Linked DNA regions of Homo sapiens: region 1 is linked to region 2. A link means that fine-mapping ties the variant in region 2 to the expression of a gene that starts in the linked region. Tissue or cell type: whole blood. Region 2 holds a variant in brackets; the other region holds the start of a gene. All regions are shown on one strand. Distances are from middle to middle.

Region 1 (8,104 bases), 100 kb before region 2:
ATAGAAAAGGGTTTACAAGTAGAAAAGGTGAATTCTCACACTGCAGGTTTAATCTTCTCTTGCGTCATTGTGGTATACTGGATTCAAATCTAGCTTAACAACTTAACTAGCTGTGTGACCTTAGGCAAGCCATTTAAATATTTTAACCTCAGCTTCCCATCTGTAAACTGGGAAGTTTGTTATGAGGCTTGAGATAACAAACATCCTATACAAGGCACATCACAGGTATTTGCTGGGTAATGGTAACTATTATTAACCACAGACCTGATATTTTTATAAAATATACAAGTTAAATTTAATAACCATGTAAATGTTACCTGCCGTATATTAAGCTAAACTAAATCTTGCTTTGCAATAATTTCCCAGAAAAGTGTTTAGACTATCTACGCTATGAGTCACTCGAGCTCTGGGCCTGTTTTCTCAGACTCTCCCTTGTCTCTCGCATCCAATTCTTAGCTGAAGCTGTCACTCCACCTTGGCAATACCTACTTTTCCATCCACTGCCCTCACCCTGGTTCAGACTTTCATTCCCTCCCTCCTTCACTGGTGCAATGGCTTCCTTAAGCCAACGCCTAAACAGTCCAGAAGCTCAGTTATGATCGTCTCACTTCCCTGCTCCTCCAATGGAGGAGACTTTCAATGGCTTCAGTGAAAACCTGCACCAGCTTCCCTCTGCCTATCCAAATCCCTCTCCGGGGCATTCAAGGTCTCCAATGCCTTGGTCAAAAAAGGATGCTTCTTCCTTTCATCTTACTGCCTCCCTGCTCAGAGAGAATGCTCTAAAAGGAGATCACTCCACAGGCTTCGCAGACTTTTCTCATGCTCTTCTCTCCCTCTGGAAGGCTCTCTGCCCACCCATCCTGACACAGCTGAAATACTCCAAAGTCTAGTTCGACACCACTTCCTTTATAAAGTCTTCCCAGTGCCCCCACGACAGATGTTCTCTCACCTCCTTGTGAAGTCTCTGAAGTCACGTACACCCCTCCTGTGCATTCCGCTTTTGCGTGCTAGTCTTCGTGTACTTATCTTCCTTGGAAGGGCCTACACTCCTTTCAAGGCTATAGATTTCCACCTTGATCTCCCCTGACACTTAACACAGAATGCAGTCAATGCTCGGTAAATACTTGCTGAATTAAGGAATTAATGGAATTTGAGATACTTGCATGGTGTAATTACAGGCCTGTCCATTCTAAAAGTCAGGCTGTGAAGGCACAGGGAAAACCAAGGTGAGGATCCTTGGGTCCTCAGGCCAACCCAGCCCTAAGTGGATTCTAGGATCTTCGGCACGTCCTCAGCTTCCTGTCTCTGAAGTGTGCGTGTGGGGTTTCTGCCTAGGCTAAGTGATCCTTAGGGGTCCCCCCGCTCTAAAATTCAGGCAAATTGACCTGTTTGTCTCATAGTAAGAAATAAGCTTCTCTTAAAACCTAATTTAAGACTAACTTTAAAATGTATATGAAATAATGATCACACGTATCTCAGTTTTGAAATCATGAGATCTGAAGAAAAATAAGCATTAATATTATAACCACATATTTCTGAAACTTAATGACTATTTTCTGCTTTTAATCCTCCCACAAATTCACCCTTTGATGGGTGAAAGAAAGATCTAACTGTGAGACTTTGTTACTTTGGTAACAAATTTCACTATTTATAATTTGTTTTAATGACAGGAATAAGACTAGAGTAATTCTGCTGTAATTGAAAACAGTATTAATATAATGTCCTATCCAAGAAGAATCCAAAATTTACATTTCAAAACATGTACATGTCTATTATTTCATTATCAAGGTTGTAACATTTACCAAATGTTAACAAAATTAAGTAGTTGCAGATTCCATTCAATCTAAAACAAAGACACAAAGAACAGGCAGGTGGTCGGGGGAAAAAGAGGGAATTAGGATACAATGAGATCTAATACTGTCCTAAAAACGGGTAAGTGCTGTTCGTGGAAAGGACAGAGAGAGAGAGAGATGTTTTAAAGTCATTTTCAAAGGAAAACTAAGAGTTGGGCCCTCCACACATTCAAATTTCTTTATTCAGGGAAGGGCTAGATACAAAACACTCATCTCAAAAATCACCAATCTATTAATAATTCAGCCATAAAGTAGCAGTTTTTGAAATAAATGAGTTTAAAGTCAACCAATAGTTTTTATACTAGTTTTCATGCTAAAAAAAAAAAAAGAAAGAAAGAAAAGAAAACCACAAAAACCTTTATTTAGAAAACCTTCGGGTCAGAAAAATACTTATGAAATTCTTAATCATCATTCACTTAGCAGAGAGCAGTGGCTCCCTTGGGCACAGAGGGCACCCTGCTTCTACAAAGTGCACGCCACAGCCAAACATATCCCTCCACACAAAACCAGAATGCCACCAGAAAAACTGCGACATGCCCTGCCTTCAGGCGGTCGCTATTATTTGAAAACGCAGAAGTCAGCATTTGTGGGCTATTTTGTAGTCAGTAGCACCACTGCAGGCTGGGTCAGGCTCGAGAGGAACCTCCATTGCCAGGATCCCCGGAAAGAATGACCGCCTCCCGACTCAAGCCCTGAGCTTGACGCCCTGCTGCCGGGCAGAGCAACATTAATGAGAAGAAAAAACATCCTTCCTCAAAGTCAGGTAATTTTTCACTTGGGTCTCTTTCCCCTTCCCAGAGAGATGTGAGACTTGACAAGTTTGTAAGTAGGCTTTAAGTTGGAAAAACAGAGCACGGGATGATACTACACAAGGAAAAAACATGGAGCCTGCCCAAAATTAAATGTTTCAATGGGGAATCCTAATAAAACATGTACCTTGATGCAGTTCATTAACCACTTAATTTATTAAAGTTTTACTCCCCTACAAAAGGTATAAGAAGCCAAGGGAGTGAAATATTCGATTAATAGTACTGATTATTGTCTATTTAAAAGATAAGAAATCCAAGCTAGCAAAAGCATAGTTATAAATAATAATCAAAATAAATACTTGGTTCATGAAAACGCCAAAAAGAGCTACTAAAGAGTCCTTCGCATTCTATTCTGACTTGGATTTAAACTGTGTGTAACCCACACATTTAAAGGATGTGCATCTCAAATCCTGGAGGACTGCGGGAGAAAATTTAAATTTCAGATTTAAATGGCTGGCAAAATTTTAAAACAAATGTAATGAAAACCCAAGTTTTCATTCCTTCTATTGCTTGGCACATTTTCCCTGGAAATCCCCAGACACATTTTGTTCAGGAAACAAAGAACTCCAAGATTGAGACAATTCTTTGCTAACTCAAAAAAAAAAAAAAAAAAAAAAGCGAAAATAGATTTTCAGGATGCCCCATAAATAAATAAATGAATCTAAGCAGAAAACAGGTTGCAACTCGAGTAGTCCCTGCCTTCAAAACTGCTTGCAAAACAAAACTCCCTGGAGCGCATTCAGGTTGCTCCTCCCAGGCCTAGGGCCACAACGCCTGGTAAATAACGTCCCGGCGCTCAGGGCCTCTTTCCCAAAAGCCCGACGTGGGAACAACTAGCAGGGGGCGGGGAGGTGGGGCGGGCTGCAAAACGCGCACGGCTCACGTGGGCATCTAGAGTCCAGCTCCCGAGACCCGGTCAAAGCAGGGACAGGATCTCTTCCCCACCCACCCAAATGACGCCCTCGGTCTGTTTCCGCTGGGATCCGGAGAAGCTGACCCTCTCACCGGGGGGTCTTCCCGGGGCGCCTAGGCCAGGGCGGGCCCCCAGCGTCGTCCTCTCCCACCCCCCCACTCCCCTGCCCACACATTCTGGATCAAAGCAGACATGCGGCCGGCGCTCTGCGATCCAAGGCACACTGGGGTCTTTCATCCGGTGTTTTTAAAAAGGAGGAAACAAAAGGCTCAGAGGCAGGGCCCCAGGTGCGCTCGCCCGCGGGGGCTGCGGCGCGGACGACCGAAGGTAACAGGCACGTCCCGGCCGAACTTCGAGACCCGGGCCCGGCAGCCGCCCCGGCGGGGAAGTTTCGTTTCCCGGACAGGGGAAGCCGAAGCGCCTCCTCGGGACAGGACCCCGCGCCGCCGGGACGCGCAGCCTTGATACAAACGTCCTTGGGTGGCCGAGGAGTCCAGGAGTCGTTGCAGTCGTGGTCTCGGGGTTACTGGGGATTGGGGGTGAGCCGGTAGAGACTGCGGAGCCCCGAGCACCACTCGGCCACCAGACAGGACCGGGGCCCCGCTCCTTTCCTCTTTTACTTTGATTACGGTTGGAGAGGTTGGGTTTTGTGGTCGCAGCCCCACCTCGCCTGACCTCCCATTCGCGGGCTGGGACAAAGGCGGCTGCAGCCGTGTCCAGCAGGCAGGGGACAGCCCCGCGCGGGCCCGACGCCCCCTCTGACCACCCGCCCGGGCTCGCGGGAGGGGAGAAAGGTACGACCGAGTCCCTGTTCGCAGGACAGGGGCCAACCTGTCCCCGCACGCGTCAGGACACCCGGTCCTGCTCCCAGCGCGGCCGGGAAGTTCTTTCGGGACCTGGGGCAAAAAAACCTTTCCACCTTCGGGACCCGAGTCTCCCAGTCGTCCAGAGGAGGACGGTCCCTCCCTGTCCCGCGAGCCCCGCAGCCCGCGCTCTCCGGGCAGGTACCCACCAGTAGCCGTCCGAGTTCTGGTCGGTGATCACGCCGCGCCGAGAATAGTACATCCTGCTGGTGCCCCCGCCGCCGCTGGTCACCTCGTAGCGCAGGTCCGGGCCAGACTCGGCGCGGATCATGCGGCCCAGAGTGTTGATCCGCGGGTGGGAGCCTCCGTTGCAGCTCATGTCGGCGGGCAATCGGGAGAGCGGCTCAGCGCCGAGGCATAAGCGAGGCGGGCCGGCGCGGAGAAAGCGGAGGGGGCCAAGGATAGGCGGACGGCCGGGGAACCGGGCGGGAGTGCGGAAGGCTCGCGAGGTCGCTGCTCGCTACCTGGGCCCTCCCGAGGCCGCTGCGAGCGCGGAGACGGCGACGGGCCGGGGGCAGGAGCGGGAGGAAAGCTGTGGCTCGGAGGGCGGCAAGGGCGCAGAGGAGCTGCGTCGGAGCTGGGTGTTGGTGTTGGTCGGCGGCGGAGCGAGTCTCCTCCCCGCTGGCACTGGGCGCCTAGGCCACACCTGGCCGGTTTCTTCCCAGGGTGGGGTGCGGCCGCCGCGCCTTCCCCGCCCCCCCGCGGGTGTCACCGACGCGCTCCGGCCGCCCCTCCCCACCTGCGCCCGCCGCCCGCGACTCCGCCCTGCGCCACCGAGGCCTGAGTAACACCGGGCGGGGCGGGGGCGGGGTCCCCGAGACCCAAGCGCCCTGGGCGAAGCCACCGCGGGGAGGACCTGCGCTCGCGGGGGCTGCTGCGCTCTGCGCTGGGGCCTCTCGGGCTGGGAATGCGTGGCCCGGCTTTTGAGGATTTCCTCGGTCCCCGGGCGGAAATAGCTGGAATGGAGGGGCCTCTCGATTGGAGACTTACTGGTCAAATATTTACTTTTGTTGATCACTGGAAACGCTACCTACCACGCATTGACTAGGACCACAGTGAGGAGGGAACGCTTTAGATGATAGAGTTTTGTTTGGGGGCTTTTTTTTGTTTTGTTTTATTCCAGGAATTCAGGAAATTGCCCCAGAAGTCCGATTTCTGATGTGTAAAACCTTTTTTTACAGAAAACCACGACTTCCTGGAAAAGTCTTCACCGTAAATATTAATCTCTTTGGCATGAAGAGGAAAACACTGCAGCTAATTTTTCATGGGATAACAAAAATATAAACTGCAATTTCTTTTATTTTTTCCCTTTCGATGGTCTTTTTAAACGAGGAGTAAAGATTTCAACGCCAGGTCCATTTTCCAAATTTTGTACCAGAACCTTGAGGATGCTTGTCTCTCGCGCGCTTCTCCGCAGACCGAACCCTCTCCGGAACTCAGAGCTGTTCACCCAAGTCAGCGGAGGAGGCCTCCTGGGACTTGAGCCTGAGGGTGGCGAAGAACCCTAGGCAGAGATCATCAACTTGGTACCGATGAGTGACGCGGAGCTTGAACATTCCAGCGACTTGCTCCAGGGCCACTCCCAGTTAAGAGGCTGAGTGTTAACTGCAAGAGGCTGAGTGTTAACTACGCCGTTGGCTCCAGGAACCGAACCGGGTTTGGATACAGACCCAGTCACACCATCCATGAAAAGCTGTTTCTATAATATGAAAAATTGTTAAATGACGCTTTAGTAAAAGCCATTTAAAGATCTTTTCTAATAAATTTTTCATCTTTCCAAACAATGCCGCTAATTACCTTCTGATACAGTGCGTTTCCAAAATGTTTATGAACTGAAAACAAAAATAAAAAACTACATTTTTATGTTGTAAAGGGAGTGGGGGGGACTTTCTAAAATTTGTCGTATTATAGCACTTCTCATGACAACTTGACCCTTTAGGCATAATTTTTGACAAAATGTCTTGTTCTTTTTCTTTTTACAGCTGAACGTCTTAAATTCAAGGAGTAAACACATATAATGAGATAAAAGTTTATCACTGTTAGCACAACCAATAATTTGCATCGTAGTCTCAATTTCCTCGAATCTTTAATAAAACCAAAGTGGTCAAGTGTTTAAATGATTATACAGATTGAGTACCCCTTATCCAAAATGCTTGGGACCAGAAATATTTTGGATTCTGGATTTTCTTGGATTTTGCAATAGTTGCATAGACGTAACGAGAGATCTTTGGGGATGGAACTCAAGCCTAAACATGAAATTTATTTATGTTTTCTATATGCCTTATACACATGGCCTGAAGGTAATTTTATACAATATTTTAGATAATTTTGTGCATGAAACAAAGTTTTGACTGCACTTTGACTGCAAGTCATCACATGAGGTCAGGTGTGGAATTCGCCACTTGTGGTCATCATGTCAGTGCTCAGAAAGTTTGGATTTGGGAGCATTTTGGATTTCAGATTTTCAGATTAGGGATGCTCAACCTGTACAAACACTGATCTATAGACAAGACGGTGGTTTTTCTCAAACAGAATCAATGGCTGGAAGTCAGCCTCTGCACAAACAGCCCATAATATCCATTGGTGGAGGAGAGAAAGACATGCATGGAGGGAAAATGTCAGTGCATAATGTACAACATTTCATTTAGGATGTTTTCCCTCTATGCATCTCATTTGTTCAGCAAATAATTATAACCTAGGATATGGAAATACTCTGCAACATACAAAGATAAATAGGGTCCAGTCACTGCCCTTAAATATATTATAGTAAAACTTTGATTTAAGAAATTCAGGGGCCCGTGCGGTGGCTCATGCCTGTAATCCCAGCACTTTGGGAGGCAGAGGCGGGTGGATCACTTGAGGTCAGGAGTTCGAGACCAGCCTGGCCAACATGATGAAACCCCATCTCTACTAAAAATACAAAAATTAGCTGGGTGTGGTGGCAGGCGCCTGTAATCCTAGCTGTTTGGGAGGCAAAGGCACGAGTATCACTTGAATCCAGGAGGTGGAGATTATATTGAGCAGAGATCGTGTCATTGCACTGCAGCCCAGGTAACAGAGCAAGACTCTGTCTCAAAAAAAAAAAAAAAAAAAAAATTCAGGGATTATTCTTCCCTAATGTGTAATAAAGAGGCTACACAATTGCACGGTAGAATTATCCTTTTAAAAAAAACCCACATATCTATTAACCACCCCCCCAGTGGTAACAAAAGCTCTTGTTAGCCAAGGGTCCCCTTACGGTCATAGGAACCAGGCTCCACACAGACCCAAACACCACCCAGACTCACAAAACTGTTCAATCTGCAGGCAAAACAGAGGAGGAGGCGAAGAGCCCACGCCACCAATCACACCTCTGGCTGCGTTGCTTCCTCACCCATCTTACTGCTTCCTGGGCTTTTCCAGGCATCCCCAAGAACACGAACGGCTTCCAGCTACCAAACATGCCTGCTCTAGGAAGACAGTGGCTTTCATTTATCTTTCTCTAAGGGTGATAAAGAAAGATAAGAGGATAAAATAAACAGATTGACATGCCCGACAGATGGAACACCCCCCACCTCAACACACACCCACACACATGCACATACACACACACACACATCAGTTGTCCAGGTTGGCTCATCACACAGTGAAGAGCGAGGATAACTTGCCCATAGTTATAATCTTAGT
Region 2 (8,104 bases):
GTGCGTTTACAATCCCTGAGCTAGACACAAAAGTTCTCCACGTCCCCACTAGATTAACTAGATGCAGAGTGTTAATTGGTGTATTTACAAACCCTGAGCTAGACACAGAGTGCTGATTGGTGCATTTACAAACTTTGAGCTAGATACAGAGTGCCGATTGGTGCATTCACAATCCCTTAGATAGACATAAAGGTTCTGCAAGTCCCCACCAGATCAGCTAGACACAGAACGCCGATTGGTGCATTTACAAACCTTGAGCTAGACGCAGGGTGCTGATTGGTGCATTTACAAACCTTCATCTACATACAGAGTGCCGATTGGTGTATTCACAATCCCTTAGCTAGATAAAAAGGTTCTCCAAGTCCCCACCAGATTAGCTAGATACAGAGTGCCGATTGGTGCAGCCACAAACCCTGAGCTAGACAGAGGGTGTTGATTGGTGTGTTTACAAACCTTGAGCTAGATACAGAGTGCTGATTGGTGTATTTACAACCCCTTAGCTAGACATAAAGATTGTTCAAGTCCCCACCAGACTGACTGAGCCCAGCTGGCTTCACCCGGTGGTATTCCCCAGCGGGGCCGCAGGTAGAGCTGTCAGTCCCGCCCGTGGACCCGCACTGTTTAGTCCTTTGGGCGGTCAATGGGACTCTGTGCTGTGAAGTAGGGGGCGGCGCTCGTCCGGGAGGCTCAGGAGACTCGGGCTGTGCAGGAGCCCAGGGCGGGGTTGGGACGGGGGGCTCAGGCATGGTGGGCTGCAGGTCCCGAGCCCTGCCCCATGGGGAAGCAGCTAAGGCCTGGCAAGAAATCGAGGACAGCCGTTGTTGGCCCAAGTGCTAAGTTCCTCACTGCCTGGGCCGGCGGGGCCGGCCGAGCCCAAGCCCACCCAGAACTCGCTCTGGCCCGCAAGCGCCGCGCGCATCCCCGGTTACTGCCCGTGCCTGTCCCTCCACACCTCCCCGCAAGCCAAGGGAGCCGGCTCCGGCCTCGGCCATCCCTGGAAGGGATCCCACAGTGCAGCGGTAGGCTGAAGGACTCCTCAAGCACGGCCAGAGTGGGCGTCGAGGCCGAGGAGGTGCCAAGAGCGAAGGGGGGCTGCCAGCAGGCTGGCACCTCTCACTAGCGGGGAAGGAAGTGTGACTGGGTTTCTGAGGAGGAGCTGTTAAAGATGCTTTTAAATTCCAGGATCCCTCCCCGACTCCTGGACGGGCCCTTTCCCACTGCAGCACAAGCCTGGGGACAGATGTATTTTCAGGAGAGGGGAAAGGAGAAGGTCTCTGCACTGGGGACCAGGGGCACAGCTGCGGGGGAGGACCCGAGAGTCAGTGGGGAGGGTGGTGTGAATGTTTACACCCTAAAGAATGCAGCAGCATACCACCAAAGTCTCTAATATCAAGGAGACGCAAGGAAGGGGGAAAAGCAACTTGGGGAAATGGGACACTGCAGAGAAAAGATAACTTCCAGAACCCCCTCGAGTATTAATAAGGGAAACTGACCTGTCTCTAGCTAGAGACTCAAAACCAAGTCAGGACAGCATGTTTTTAAAGCCAGATGACAGCAATATAGAGAAAAGAGAGTGTATTCATAAAAGAAGAATGCAATGAGGTTTTTTGTTTTGTTTTAGTTTTTTGTTTTGTTTTGAGACGGAGTCTCTCTCTGTCGCCAGGCTGGAGTGCTGTGGCGTGATCTCAGCTCACTGCAACCTCCGCCTCCCAGGTTCAAGTGATTCTCCTGCCTCAGCCTCTGGAGTAGCTGGGATTACAGGCACGCGCCACCACGCCAGGCTAATTTTTTTATTTTTAGTAGAGACGGGGTTTCACCATGTTGGCCAGGGATGGTCTCGATCTCCTGACCTCGTGATCCGCCCACCTCAACCTCCCAAAGTGCTGGGATGACAGGCATGAGCCACCGCGCCCGGCCCACAATGAGTTTTTTTAAAGTAGCATTCAAGAGAACAAAGAAAGATCTATTGGAAATTAAAAATATAATAGAAATGAAAAGTTCAAGGTAAAACTGGAAATCTCCCAGAGTAAAATGACAAGGAGATGAAAAATAAGTCAAGGAACTGGAGACTTGATGGTGGAGAGATGAAGAGAATCCCCGTGTGACGGGAAAAGGGGCCTGCCAGATGATTGCTGGACACCAGCGTGGGAGCAACTAGCCCGGAGGGTCTGCATGGAGACCAAACTGGGAGGATATATGATGAAAATGAACCTACTGGGACAGGACCCAGACAATGAGCAGAAAGTTTGGAGTTGAATTAGCCACAGCAGACAGAAAAGTAGGCAATTTTTTAAAAAAAAGGACAGTTGTTAATTTGGGGGAAACTTAATAGCTAAGCACAAAAGAAAAAAGTAGTTGCAATATTACAAGATTGACTCTGAACACAGATAGTCACACTGACACAAATAATGGAAATTGATGTGAAAACTCCAAGCTACCCGGGAGACTGAGGCAGAAGGATGGCTTGAACCCTGGAGTTCAAATCTGCTCTGGGCAGCATAGGGAGACTCCGTGTCTAACAAAAAGTAATAAAAGTTAAAACATAACTGGGATGACAGGCAAGAGGACAGAAGTGAAAATATGTGGAGAATGAAGAACTAAATCTTCAACTTTCATAGAAGAAAATAACTAATGTTTTAAACTGAAAAATAAAGCAATACAAGCTTGTTAATTAAATTTATCCAGGTAAATACCAAAATAATCAGTTAAAAGAACATAACTGACACTAGCAAAGGAGAAATTGGGGAAGTGGGTATAGGGGAAGTGGTTTTTTTTAACTTAATAATTTGATTGACTTTGAAAAATAAGGGCGTGGCATGATGGTTCATGTCTGTAATCCTAGCACTTGGGAGGCCAAGGCAGGCAGATGGCTTGAGCCCAGAAGTTTGAGACCAGCTTGAGCAACACAGTGAGACCCCATCTCTACAAAAAATACAAAAAATAAGTGGATGTGGTGGCGTGCACCTGTAGTCCCACCTACCTACGAGGCTGATGTGGGAAGATTGATTGAGCCCAGGAGGCAGAGGTTGTAGTGAGCTGAGGTCGAGCCACTGTACTCCAGCCTGGGTGACAGAGTGAGACCCTGTCTCAAACCTTTTAAAAAAGAAAAATAAGTACATACATATACATTTGACAAAAAGTGAAACGGCAATATTGGATGTTTTTGCAAGTGGAAAAAATGTTTATTCTAAACTAAAGTAACATTAATATAAAGTTTAGACCTTTTTTTCACAATAAAGAAACAGAATCCCCTGGCTATCATTATGGTAGGCTAACACTAAAATGAATGAAATTTCTCATCCAAAACAGGTAGAGTTATTTAATTTCCATAAGAAATTCACAACTCATCTTTGAAGCAATGATATTAATTACATGAGACAT[C/T]CATAGGAAGTTTAAATCATGAAAGTATGCATCCTTTCTATCAATGCTTTTTATAGAAGTGAAAAACAAGGCCGGGCGTGGTGGCTCATACCTGTAATCCTAGCATTTTGGGAGGCCAAGGTGGGTGGATCATGAGGTCAGGAGTTCAAGACCAGCCAGGCCAACATGGTGAAATCCTGTCTACTAAAAATACAAAAAAAAAAAATTAGCCAGGCATGGTGACACACACCTCTAATCCCAGCTACTCTGGAGGCTGAGGCAGGAGAATTGCTTAAACCCAGGAGGCGGAGGTTGCAGTGAGCCAAGATCACACCACTGCACTCCAGCCTAAGTGACAGAGCAAGACTCTGTCTCGGGAAAAAAAAAAAAAAAAAAAGAAGTGAAAAACATCTTTACAAAGGCCAGTTTCCCATATTTCAATATAGATGTAAAATTCAAATGGCTTTTAGAAGTTTTCAAATTTGTAGGAAAACCCCCCACCCAATAAATCTTCTTGTCCAAATCAAGGTAAAAACTAATTTTCAGAATCTGAGAGTCAGAAGGGCCAGGCCCTCTGACTTATGAAAGTTTCTCATCTAGGATTTGGGGCATGATGAGTCCTTGGCCAGGCCTTTATTGTGGAAACCCACAGCACATTCACAGCCAGGCCACAACACATGTGGAACTAAAGTCCACCCCCTCCCTTTTTCTTTTTTCTTTAAATGAGCAGATTATTCTCAAGACTTCCTTTTTATTTATTTATTTATTTATTTATTTATTGAGACGGAGTTTTGCTTTTGTTGCCCAGGCTAGAGTGCAATGGCGCAATCTTTGCTTACCGCAGCCTCTGCCTCCCAGGTTCAAGTGATTCTCCTGCCTCAGCCTCCCGCGTAGCTGGGGTTACAGGTACGCACCACCATGCCCGGCTAATTTTGTATTTTCAGTAGAGACGGCTTCTCCATGTTAGTCAGGCTGGTCTCAAACTCCTGACCTCAGGTTTTCTGCCCACCTCGACCTCCCAAACTGCTGGGATTATAGGCGTAAGCCACCACACCCAGCCAGACTTCCATCTTAAACTGGGTTTGGAGTTTATTGTCTCCTCTCCTCACGGTTTTTCCTAGCTCAGACATCTGGTCAAAATCTACCCTCTCTCAGTCATATTGTGGCTGTCTGTCCTTTTCTTTTCTTTTTTCTTTCCTCCCCTCCCCTCCTCTCCCCTCCCTGTCCCATCCCTTTCCTTTCCTCTCTTTCTTTCTTTCCTTTATTTTCTTCTTTTTTCTTTTCTTTTCTTTCTTTCCTTTATTTTCTTCTTTCTTCTTTTCTTTTCTTTCTTTCTTTCGTTTTCTTCTTTTTTTTCCTTTTTGAGACAGTCTCACTTTGTCTCCCATGCTGGAGTGCACTGATGCGATCTTGGCTCACGGCAGCCTGTATCTCCCCGGCTCAAGCAATCTTTCCCCCTCATCTTCACTAGTAGCTGAACTGTAAGCTTGTGCCACCATGCCAGCTAATTTAAAAAAAAATTTGTAGAGATGGGGGTCACACTATGTTTTGAACTCCTAGGCTGGTCTCAAACTCCTAGGCTCAAGTGATCCTCCCGCCTTGGCCTCCCAAAGTGCTGGGATTACAGGTAGGAGCCACCACACTCAGCCCCGAGACCTGTCATTTCTTTATCTCATAGTCACCCTTATCTGAGTGGCCCACACCCTTTCTGTTCATGCAGCTGCCCGTCTCAACAGCTTACGGACACACACCTGTAGCTCAAGCTGTTTCTCAAAGAAGTAGCTCATAGAACAAGATTGAGAAACTCTGTAGAACCAGACCCTTCTTTCTCCTCTGAACCAGAGGCTGTCTCTAGAACTGTAAGAACACAGCACCATAGGCCGGGGCCAGTGGCTCACGCCTATAATCCCAGCACTTTGGGAGGCCGAGGCAGGTGGATCACCTGAGGTCAGGAGTTCGAGACCAGCCTGACCAACATGGTGACACCCCATCTCTACTAAAAATACAAAAATTAGCCAGGCACGGTGGTGCACACCTGTAGTCCCAGCTACTCGAGAGGCTGAGGTAGGAGAATTGCTTGAACCCAGGAGGCGGAGGTTGTGATGAGCCAAGATCATGCCGCTGCACTCCAGACTGAATAACAGAGTGAGACCTGTCTCCAAAAAAAAAAAAAAAAAAAGGAGAGAGGAAATGATGGGCAAGGTGTGGGAAAAGCTATCAAGCATACTCTTTAATTAGGAAAGGGAGGAATCTGCACTTTGGAAGAGAGTGGAGATAATGCAGAAGGCAGAGGAGACAGATGACAGGAGCTGTCTGCCCAAATACCCTGGAGTCTTTTTTTCTTTTTTTTTTTTTTTTTTTGAGACAGAGTCTCACTCTGTCACCCAGACCGGAGTGCAGTGGCATGATCTCGGCTCACTGCAACCTCTGCCTCCTGGGTTCAAGCGATTCTTCTGCCTCAGCCTCCGGAGTAAATGGAACTACAGGCGTGTGCCACCATGCCCAGCTAATTTTTTTTGCATTTTTAGTAGAGACAGGGTTTTACCATGTTAGACAGGATGGTCTCGAACTCCTGACCTCAGGTGATCTGCCCACCTTGGCCTCCCAAATTGCTAGGATTACAGACATGAGCCACTGCACCCGGCCACTTGATTGCTTTTTATTCTATTTTCTCCTCCAATTGTGTGTTTTCAAATAACCTGTCTTTAGCTCACTGATTCTTGGCTCAACTTGATCCATTCTGCTGTTGAGAGCCTCTAATGAATATTTTAATTCAGCAAATGTATTTCTTAGTTCCAATATTTCTGTTTGTTTGTTGTTATTTCAATCTCTTTGTTAAATTTCTCTGATGAATTTCTGAATTGCTTTTCTGTATTATCTTGGAGATCACTGAGTTTCCTTAAAACTACTATTTGACTTATTGGTCAGAGAGCTCACATATCACCATCCTGTTGGGGTCAGTTACTGGTTCCTTGGTTTGTCCATTTTGGAGGATTGTTGTTCCCTGTTTGCCGTTGTTTCTTCTGGATGTACGTCTGTCTTTGCATTGAAACATTATGTATTCCAGTCTTCTCTAGCTTGTTTGGGTTTTTATTGAATATATTTGCTTAGAAGTTATTCACTGCTAGGCCACTGCCCCCTTTTCAGCTCTGGGTGGCACCTTAAAGCCCAGGTTCACTTTGACTCTAGTAACTGATCAGTATACTGCCCTTCCTGGCTAGGAGTTTGTGCCCAGGGGACCTGTGAGCTGAACCCCCTACAGTGTCGTACTGCTAAATAGTCACTCTGACTTGGTGCCTCCTTTGGTTGAGTTACAGAACAGAATTTCCAGGGTGGGGATGGTAGTCCTGCCTCCTCCCTTTGTCTCTGCCTGTTCTCAGAGATATTTCTCCTTTTATGCTTCCTGTGGGTTAAGGAAGGAACGGATCTCCTGCCGGGGAACCCAAGATGGTGGGGGAGCTGTTTGTTGACCTTGATCTTACTTACACCAGTGTAGAAACAGTGAGTTGGGGGGAAATTTTCCACACACTTGCTGCCAGGTAGAACGAGGGGAGGGGTGTCACAGATGTGGAAATCTGATTATCTTACCATCTTCTCGGGTTTTTTTCACCTCTTTGTGGCCCTGAAAACTGTCTTATCTTCATATTTTAGTTCTGGGATATTTCTGGTGATCATCTCGGTGCAAGTCAGGGTTTACTGTTACTTGCAACCAGAAGCACACCAGTTGGTGCACTCTTCCATCCAGGCAGAGCAGGTTCTCTGTCATCTACCTCTGGCATGTAGCTCAGCTTTTCACCCTCCCAGTCCCCACCCAAACCTATCCATCCCTCAGTCTGGCTCTGGTCCTACCAGTCCCACCCAACCACTCCAATCCATGCAATTTGCTCCTTTCTCTGTACATCTATGGCATGTACCTCTGGGCCACACAATTTAGCACTTAGACCTCACATTCTTTCCAAATCATTTGTGTGTGAGTGTGAACATGTGAGTGTGTGTGTGTCCACGTGTGTGTTATTGCATAAGAAACAGCAATATTAAGGATAGGAGATAACATATAACCCTTGTATATTCCCCAATAGCATTCTGTTGATAGGCTTAGAATAATATTCAATTTAGAAAAATAATACAGTGAATGAACTATATGGTTTTTTTGATTTTCATCAACTTTCTACTTGCTGGGGAAGAAGTTTTATTTTATTTTGATAGGAGGATGGGATGTTGGGAAAAGAATCTAAGCCACATAAGTCTATGTTTAACGTAAACATTTACTCCTAGCTTTCAAACCTCTATTGCAACCTCCAATCAGACTCCGTGTGGTAAGTCTCTTTATGAATGCAGCGTGAGGCCAGGCGCGGTGGCTCACGCCTGTAATCCCAGCACTTTGGAAGGCTAAGGTGGACAAATCGCTTGAGCTCGGAGAGTTTGAGAACAGCCTGGACAACATGGCAAAACCCCATCTCTACCAAAAAAAAAAAAAAAAAAATTAGCCAGGTGTGGTGGTGTGCCCCTGTAGTCCTGCTATTTAGGGGGCTGAAGTGAGAAGATCTCTTGTGCCTGGGAAGTTGAGGCTGCAGTAAGCCATGTTTGCACTACTGCATTCCAGCTTGGGTGACAAAGTAAGACTCAAAAAAAAAAAAAAAAAACAAAAACCAGCAGCATAAAAGCTACATAAAAAGAGCCCAAGGAAGGAAAGAGGTCATTAGCCCATTTATGCCTAGTGTTCCATTATCGGAATGCTAAGCTT

Evidence for each region. PIP is the estimated chance that this variant, and not a neighbour inherited with it, causes the effect.
Region 1: DSP starts here. The variant in region 2 is fine-mapped to the expression of DSP in whole blood (TOPMed, PIP 0.92).

The regions. Positions count from the first base shown.
Region 1 is chr6:7,538,569-7,546,672 of GRCh38, reverse strand. It overlaps DSP (desmoplakin), which reads right to left and starts at 5,002. Exons shown (of 24, transcript NM_004415.4): 1 at 4,588-5,002. The coding sequence starts at 4,757. DSP-AS1 (DSP antisense RNA 1) reads left to right here and starts at 3,590. Exons shown (of 2, transcript NR_183331.1): 1 at 3,590-3,627; 2 at 5,620-6,222. RefSeq lists an enhancer at 7,014-8,104.
Region 2 is chr6:7,434,115-7,442,218 of GRCh38, reverse strand. All of the region lies in intron 2 of LOC102724234 (a long non-coding RNA gene), which reads right to left. Among named protein-coding and RNA genes, the nearest start is that of RIOK1, 48 kb to the right of the region's middle. The variant C/T (reference allele first, on the strand shown) is at 3,382.